Linked DNA regions of Homo sapiens. The protein of the gene in region 2 purifies or fractionates together with the protein of the main gene of each other region. This does not show direct contact. Each region holds a gene or a part of one and is shown on either strand. Other genes may lie near its edges.

What was found. Proteins that work in one complex are often made in the same cells at the same time.
Region 1: the proteins of RNF126 (region 2) and LRWD1 purify together in Homo sapiens (affinity purification with mass spectrometry; 3 studies listed by BioGRID and IntAct, with this or other methods). This does not show direct contact.

What each region holds. Positions count from the first base shown.
Region 1 is NC_000007.14:102,467,984-102,471,163, reverse strand, and holds part of LRWD1 (leucine-rich repeat and WD repeat-containing protein 1), read right to left. Parts: intron 3,103-3,180; coding exon 2,977-3,102; intron 2,902-2,976; coding exon 2,787-2,901; intron 2,611-2,786; coding exon 2,510-2,610; intron 2,310-2,509; coding exon 2,102-2,309; intron 1,591-2,101; coding exon 1,518-1,590; intron 1,423-1,517; coding exon 1,282-1,422; intron 1-1,281. UniProt on the Homo sapiens protein: Required for G1/S transition. Recruits and stabilizes the origin recognition complex (ORC) onto chromatin during G1 to establish pre-replication complex (preRC) and to heterochromatic sites in post-replicated cells.
Region 2 is NC_000019.10:652,840-657,015, reverse strand, and holds part of RNF126 (E3 ubiquitin-protein ligase RNF126), read left to right. Parts: intron 1-4,131; coding exon 4,132-4,176. UniProt on the Homo sapiens protein: E3 ubiquitin-protein ligase that mediates ubiquitination oF target proteins. Depending on the associated E2 ligase, mediates 'Lys-27'-, 'Lys-29'-, 'Lys-48'- and/or 'Lys-63'-linked polyubiquitination of substrates.

The sequences.
Region 1 (3,180 bases), on a different chromosome or scaffold from region 2:
GGTCAGGAGTTCGAGACCAGCCTGGCCAACATGGTGAAACCCCATCTCTATTAAAATACAAAAATAAGCCAGGCGTGTTGGCGTGCACCTGTAATTCCAGCTACTTGGGAGGCTGAGGCAGAAGAATTGCTTGAACCCGGTGGGGGGGTGGAAATTGCAGTGAGCCGAGATCGTGTCATTGCACTCCAGCCTGGGCAACAAGAGTGAAACTCCATCTCAAAGAAAAGAAAATTAGCCGGGCATGGTGGCGTGCGCCTGTAATCCCAGCTACTCGGGAGGCTGAGGCAGGAGGATCACTTGGAACCTGGCGGCAGAGGTTGCAGTGAGCCGAGATCGAGCCACTGTACTCCAGCCTGGGTGACAAGAGGGAGACTCTATCTCAAATAAAAAGTAAATAAATAGAAATGCAAAGCTTACCGTGGCTGACGAAGCCCGGCGTGCCCCGCCCAGGCACCCTTGCCACCTTGTTCTGGGCTGGGTCCACCCAGCTGTGGCCACATGGTGGAGCAGGCCAGCTGGCTCCCCTGCCACTGACCTTTGCACGTACCATTTCCTCCATGCAAGCACCTCCCCACCCTCCGCCCGCTGACTCCCTCACCAGGCTCCCAGGGAGGAAAGCGTGAGCCCCAGAATATCCATCTGCCGCTGGTCACCTCAGCAGAGTCCCCTGAGGCCCCCACGCTAGTGTCCCTCTGCCCGTTACTCTTTTTCCGTCTCCTTCGTAGCTGGCATCACACTGTGGGATTTTGATTGGCCACCTTTGCTGAGCATCTGTCTTCCCCAGTAGGCTGGGGGCCCCAAGAGGACAGGGACCCCTTGCCAAGCCCTGTCTCAGAGGCCTTCCAGGTGGGACAGATGAGCCAGAAAGCCTCAACGTGGCACTTCCAAAGCCTGCCTGCCCAGACACCACCTCACCTGCCCTCCGCTAGCCATCGGCCCCTCTTTACAGATGAGGACATTATGCCAGCACAGAGGACCATCACACTGCTGATGAGTGGCAGGAGTGGGCTGGATCACGTGGGCACAGCATGGTGCTGAAGCCCCAGGTGAAGGGGAGGTCATCATGGCCCAGTCCCACAGCTGAACCCAGGGTGAGAGCAGGGTCAGAGTCCTTTCCTCCAGAGCCTGGCAGAAAGGTGGGACAAGCCAGCTCTGCGAAGAGGCCTCTAAAAACAACCCTTATGGTTACCCGGGTGTGCCCAGGCTGCTGTGAGCCCATCTGGGCCAACAGCCACCCTCTGCAGAGGCCTGGCTTCCAAGGCGCCCCCTGCCCAGCCTCACCTCCTCTTTTGGGGCTGGTCCAGCCGCACGTCCCAGCAGCAGCAGCCGCCCTCGCAGCCGGCCAGCAGGCGGGCGTCCGGGCAGGAGGCGACAGGGCAGAGGCGCAGGGGGATAGAGGTGGTGTCCAGTGTGAGCAGCTGGCTGCCAGTGGGCAAGGGGGAACAGAGCATCAGACCCAGACCGAGGTGTCCCTGCCCCAGCAGCTGGCCACTCCCCAGCCTCACCCGAAGCATCACCTGGCCTGGAATTCGTAGTCCTGGTTGGGCACCCCGATGTCCCAGAGGATGATCCGCTTGTCATAGGAGGCCGCTGAAGAGGGGGTGGGGTAGGGGAGAAGTGGCCCTGAGATGACCCTGCTCCCTCCTGCTGGCTGCATCCCAGGCTGAGCCCACGGTCCCAAGGCCAGCCCCTCCGAGGCGGGGAGGGCGGGCCGAGGCTAGGAGACAGGAACACTCCTGGGCCCCCAATCCCTGTTTCCTCCATCTAACCTGATGCGGTGGCTCCAGCGGCCACTTCCTGTGGCTCATCCATCCCCCTTGACAGGGGCGCCACACCCGGGGGCAGGGGCATCCCCCCAGGTCACTGACAGGGGACAGAGTGGCCCAGGCTGTTGGAAAACTCCGAGGCCACAGAGCAGGCTGTGGATAAAGCCAGGGTTGAAGCGACATGGCTTCCTGCCAAAGCTAGAGTCGGAGCGGTGCAGACTGGGGCCCGGCAGGCGCCCGAGCTCACAGCCATCCCAGGGAGGGGAGCGTGGAGGCTACTGGGGCAGCAGGACAGGGGTGCTTGGGGGTCCCAGGGGTGAAGGGGAGGGGCTTACTGAAGAGATGGGTCTCGTGGGCGGGGCTGAAGCACAGGGTGGCGATGGCCTTCTTGTGGGCTCGGATGACCCCGCAGCAGAAGCCGGCACGCACGTGCAGCAGCCGGACCAGGCCCCGTAGGCCTGCAGCCGCCAGCACACTCCAGCGCTTCTTGTGGCCAGCCTGTGTGACCACCATCAGAGCGGTCCAGGCCACAGAAAAGAACTCCTGGGCGGGGGTTAGAGTAAACAGTCACTGGGGCAGAGCTATTGGTGTGAACACGCGGGTAGCCCGGGCCTGGGGGAGGGAGCCCCAGCATGAAAGAAAAAGGCCATGGGGCAGGGGGCCGAGCCTGCATCCATCCCCATGCTGCTGTTCAGGAGTCAGTCGGGCACCCTTGCCCAGCAGGGACAGGGCCTTGCACTCACCTCGCCGGGTGCCTTGTACTTGTGGAGCACGATGCCCGTCTGGCAATCAATTACGCACACAGCCTCCCCGCCGCACGTGGCCACGGTCTGGGATGTGGCCCCTGAGTGCCCGGTTTTGAGAGGTCGGATGAGCAGAGACATTTCCCATCTAGGTCCTCCCTGCAGCCTCCTCCTCCCAGCCTTGATGGCGCCTTTTAAGCTCTGTCTCCTGATCCCCCACCCATCCAGGCGGCCCTATTTCCAGCGGCCCTTGCCCCGCCTGCCCGCCACCATGTACCCTCCTCCCAGGCCGGCTCGAAGGCACAGGCCCACAGCTGGGTCTCGAGGTCCTGGGGGCTGTTGTTCTTGCTGTGGCACTGCAGGAAGTGCAGGGGCTCCAGCTTCACAGCAGGCTGTGGGGGGAGAGAAGGGTCACAGCTGCCCAGCCCCGACTCATCTGCCACCTGCTCCTTGCCACCTCAGCTCACCTGGCTGCCATCGGAGCCTGCCACAGGGCTGCCCTCCACCTGGGCCGACGGGGAGGCACACGCCCGCTTGCTGGGAGAGAGGCTGAGTGGGACGTCGTCTGGCCGTTTCAAGGCCGCCAGTCTGGCCTGTGGAGGGGGCCTTGTGACCATGGGCCTGTCTGCCTGGGGCTTCCTTCCTCCCCATCACAGGCTGGACCCCACCTC
Region 2 (4,176 bases):
GAGTCACCATGCAGGGAGAGCCTGAGCCCTGAGCTACCCCTCCATTCCCAGAGACCCACCCAGGCGATGGAGCGGCCCTGGGCTCCCGGTCAGCTGGCGGGCGGACGGCGGCAACCCCTGAGCCCAGAGGAGCCCCGATAGACCCGACACCGGCAGAAACCAGGGGTTCAGATTTGACTGTGAAGTCTCAGCGTGTTTACGTGGGGCGTCCCAATCCCGACACCCCAAACACACCCCAAGAACCGACGCCTGGGGAGAGTTGTCACGGCCACTGTGGCAGAGCCACACTGCTCCCACACTAAGCTCAGGGCCACAGTGGTGGTCGTTGGCTGCTTCCCCTTCCCCTTTCCCTTTTTCTTTTTCTTTTTCTGACACGGTCTCACTCTGTGGCCCAGGCTGGAGTGCAGTGGTATGATCTCGGCTCACTGCAACCTCTGCCTGCCGGGTTTAAGCGATTCTCGTGCCTCAGCTCCTGAGTAGCTGGGATTACAGGCACCCACCACCGTGCCCAGCTAATTTTTGTATTTTTAGTAGAGACGGTATTTCCCTATGTTGGCTGGTCTCGAACTCCTAACCTCAAGTGATCTGCCCACTTTGGCCTCCCAAAGTGCTAGGATTACAGGTGTGAGCCACTGTGCCCAGCCCTTTTTTTCTTTGTTTCTTTCTTTTTTTTGTTTTTGTTTTTGAGATGCTGCCTCACTCTGTTGCTGCAATCTTGGCTCACTGCAGCCTCCACCTCCCAGGTTCAAGCGATCCTGGCACCTCAGCCTCCCTAGCAGCTGGGACCACAGGCGCCTGGCCCATTTATTTTAATAGCTTTATCTCAGTATTTTCACACACCATATAATTCACCTGGTGAAACGTTTGTAGTATATTCATAAAGTTGTGCAACCACCACCACAGTCTAATTCCACAGCATTCTCACAGCTGCAAAAAGAACCCACCTCAGCCCTGCCAGCCGTCACTCCCCGTCCCCTCCCCCAGGCCCTGGTGCTCACACATCCCCTCTCTGTCTCTGTGGCTCGGCCTGTCCTGGACATTTCATAGACGTGGGATCACACGCTGCGTGGTCTTCTGTGTCTGGCATCTCTCACTGGACGTGATGTCCTCAAGATGCAATCCCCCCTCCCCCCCGCCGTGGCCTGGTCTGGGCCTTGCCCCTTTCCATGGTTGAGTCGTGCTCTGAGGTGCGGGTGGACACTGGAGCTGTTTGCATCTGCCGACGACGATGATGAACTGTGCTGCCGTGAACTCTCACCTGCCAGTTCTGGCCATGTGAACATTTGGTGGGCAGGTGTCTTCGTTTCTCTGGGGTCTGCGCCTGGAGTGAAAGTTCTAGCTCGTGGGTCATGGGGTAGTTCCATCTGGGGGACTTCTGGGCTCCCAGCAGGCCTGACGGGGTCTTGCATCTCGTCCTGGCTGGCCCTGGGAAGTGGCATCTCGCTGGGGCTGGCCGGCTGCGTTTACCCAGCGTGTTTTTGGAGGCATGTCCTGTACACGTCCTTTCCCCCCCCACTTTTCTTTTTTTTTGAGATGGAGTGTCACTCTGTCGCCCGGGCTAGAGTGCAGTGGCGCGATCTCGGCTCACTGCAAGCTCTGCCTCCCAGGTTCAAGCCGTTCTCCTGCCTCAGCCTCCCGACTTTGCCCGTTTTTAGTTGCGTTGTCTGTTTCTCTTTTTCTTTTTTTTTTTGGCAGGGTCTGGTTCTGTCACCCAGGCTAGCGCAGTGGTGGGACCACAGCTCACTGCGGTCTCGATCTCCTGGACTCAAGCCATTCTGCCTCCTGCCTCCCGCTCCTGCCTGTCTCCTCCCCCTCCTTAGTAGCTGGAGCTACAGACCCACCCCAGCATACCCAGCTAATTTGTTTTTTGTAGAAATGGGGTTTGGCCATGTTGGCTAGGCTGGTCTCAAGCTCCTGACCTCAAATGGTCTGCCCACCTTGGCTTCCCAAAGTACTGGGATCACAGGTGTGAGCTGCTGCACCTGGCCTGGGCTTTTTTTTCTTTCTTTCTTTCTTTCTTTTGAGTTGTAAGCACTTTTTTTTTTCCCGATACGGAGTCTCACTCTGTCGCCCAGGCTGGAGTTACAATGTCATGATCTCGGCTCGTTGCAGCCTCCGCCTCCTAGGTTCAAGCGATTCTCCTGTCTCAGCCTCCTGAGTAGCTGGGATTACAGGTACGTGCCACCACGCCTGGCTAACATTTGTATTTTTAGTAGAGACGGGGTTTCTCCATGTTGTCCAGGCTGGTCTCGAACTCCTGGCCTCAGGTGATTCGCCTGCCTCGGCCTCCCAAAGTGCCAGGATTACAGGTATGAGACACCGCGCCCGGCCAGCACTTTTTTTTTTTTTTTTTTTTTTTTTTTTTTTTTTTTTGAGACGGAGTCTTGCTCCCTCGCCCAGGCTGCAGTGCAATGGCACAATCTCAGCTCACTGCAACCTCCGCCTCCCGGGCTCAAGCAATTCTCCTGCCTCAGCCTCCCAAGTAGCTGGGATTACAGGCGCCCGCCACCACACCCGGCTAATTTTTGTATTTTTAGTAGAGACAGAGTTTCACCATGTTGGCCAGGCTGGTCTCCAACTCCTGATCTCAGATGATCCGCCCGCCTCGGCCTCCCGAAGTGCCAGGATTACAGGCCTGAGCCACCGCGCCCCCGGTGATGGCGGAGCGTGCCGAGAATTCGTGGGGCGTGGGCTGAAACGCATGTGGTGCCTCCCGGCCTCACCAGGAGCCGGGCCGCACTTTTTCTATATTGTAGATGGTGCCTCTTCACTCTCCCCTCACGGTGGGTTCATGTGCATCTGGCATCGTTTGCTCACCCTGGCCTTAGTCCCTCCCCACCCAGCCTGTGCTTCAGTGGCAGGAGCAGGTGAGGCAGGCACGGCGTGGTGTGGGCGGGGGCCCAGCTGTCGGCCCTCCCCTTGGGCACTGCACGCCAGACCCCCGCTTCTCCCCAGAGTCAGTGGGTGAGGCCGGGATCTTGCTTGCTGGAGAGGTCCCAGCCCCTGCCCCTGCGAAGACTGAACAGCCCCGGTGCAACCTGCATCCCCAGAGCCTGGGGTCGACCTTGGCTCCCCTCACAGCACTCCCCCATGCACGGTGGGAGCCTTGTCTCCTGTTTTTGTCTGTGTTACCTGGGGGTGGTCTTGGGACCCCCATGTGAGCCCCTGGCGTGATGACACGTGCCGTGTGAGGCCATTTTCACGTTGCTGCGATGGAGCACTTGAGACTGGGTCGTTCATAGAGAGCAGTTGATTTAGCTTCCAGTTTCCAGTTCTGCAGGCTGTGCGGGAAGTGTGTGTCGGCATCTGCCCAGCCCCTGGTGAGGCCGGGAGGCACCATGCACGTTTCAGCCCAGGCCCCACGAATGCTCGGCACGCTCCGCCATCACCAGGGGCCCAGCCATCCATGAGGAGTCCGCCCTGTGAGCCAGTGTCTCCAGCAGGCCCTTCAGCCCTGGGGATCCCGTTGCAGTGTGAGATCCACAGGGGATGGCATCCGTCCTGCTCGGCACAGCTGTGGCTTGAGGCTGGTGCTGGGGAACTGTGAACGTGGTTTTGGGACTCACCCACGGCTGTCCCTGGGCAGGGTCCTCACGTCTCCTCTGGGACATCACCATGTTGGCCTTGTGTTGTCCTTGGCTCTAGGGGGACCTGGGGATGGGGTCTTGCAGGGGTGTGGCCAGCGTGGACGTGGCCTCCCCCGAGCCAGGGGAACGGGCTGTGTGCGGGGCTGCCAGAGCGTCCTGGAAATGCCACTGTGGGGTATTGGGGCACCCCTCCGAGTGGTGCCACCTGTGTGAGGAGGTGCCCAGGCACTGGTGACGCCCGTCACGGTGGGGCAGGTCGGAGGGGCTCAGCCAAGGCGCTGATGACGCTGGTGACGCCCGTCACGGTGGGGCCAGGTCGGAGGGGCTCAGATCGCCGGGAGCCACCAAAGGGTCAGCGGGTGGCTGGCAGAGGCCAGGTCCCCTCGGCCGCCCTCCAGGACCCACGGGTTGGGAGCCACCCTGGCCTGCGTGTGCCTGGCCAGCCAGAGACCGCTGGGTCCGGAGCCCCTCTGTCCTCACACTTGGGGGGGTTTGCAGGTGATGCCGGCGTCACCGTGACCCGGCCTCCTGTTCTCTCCTGCAGGATTATATCTGTCCAAGATGCGAGTCTGGTTTTATCGAGGAGCTT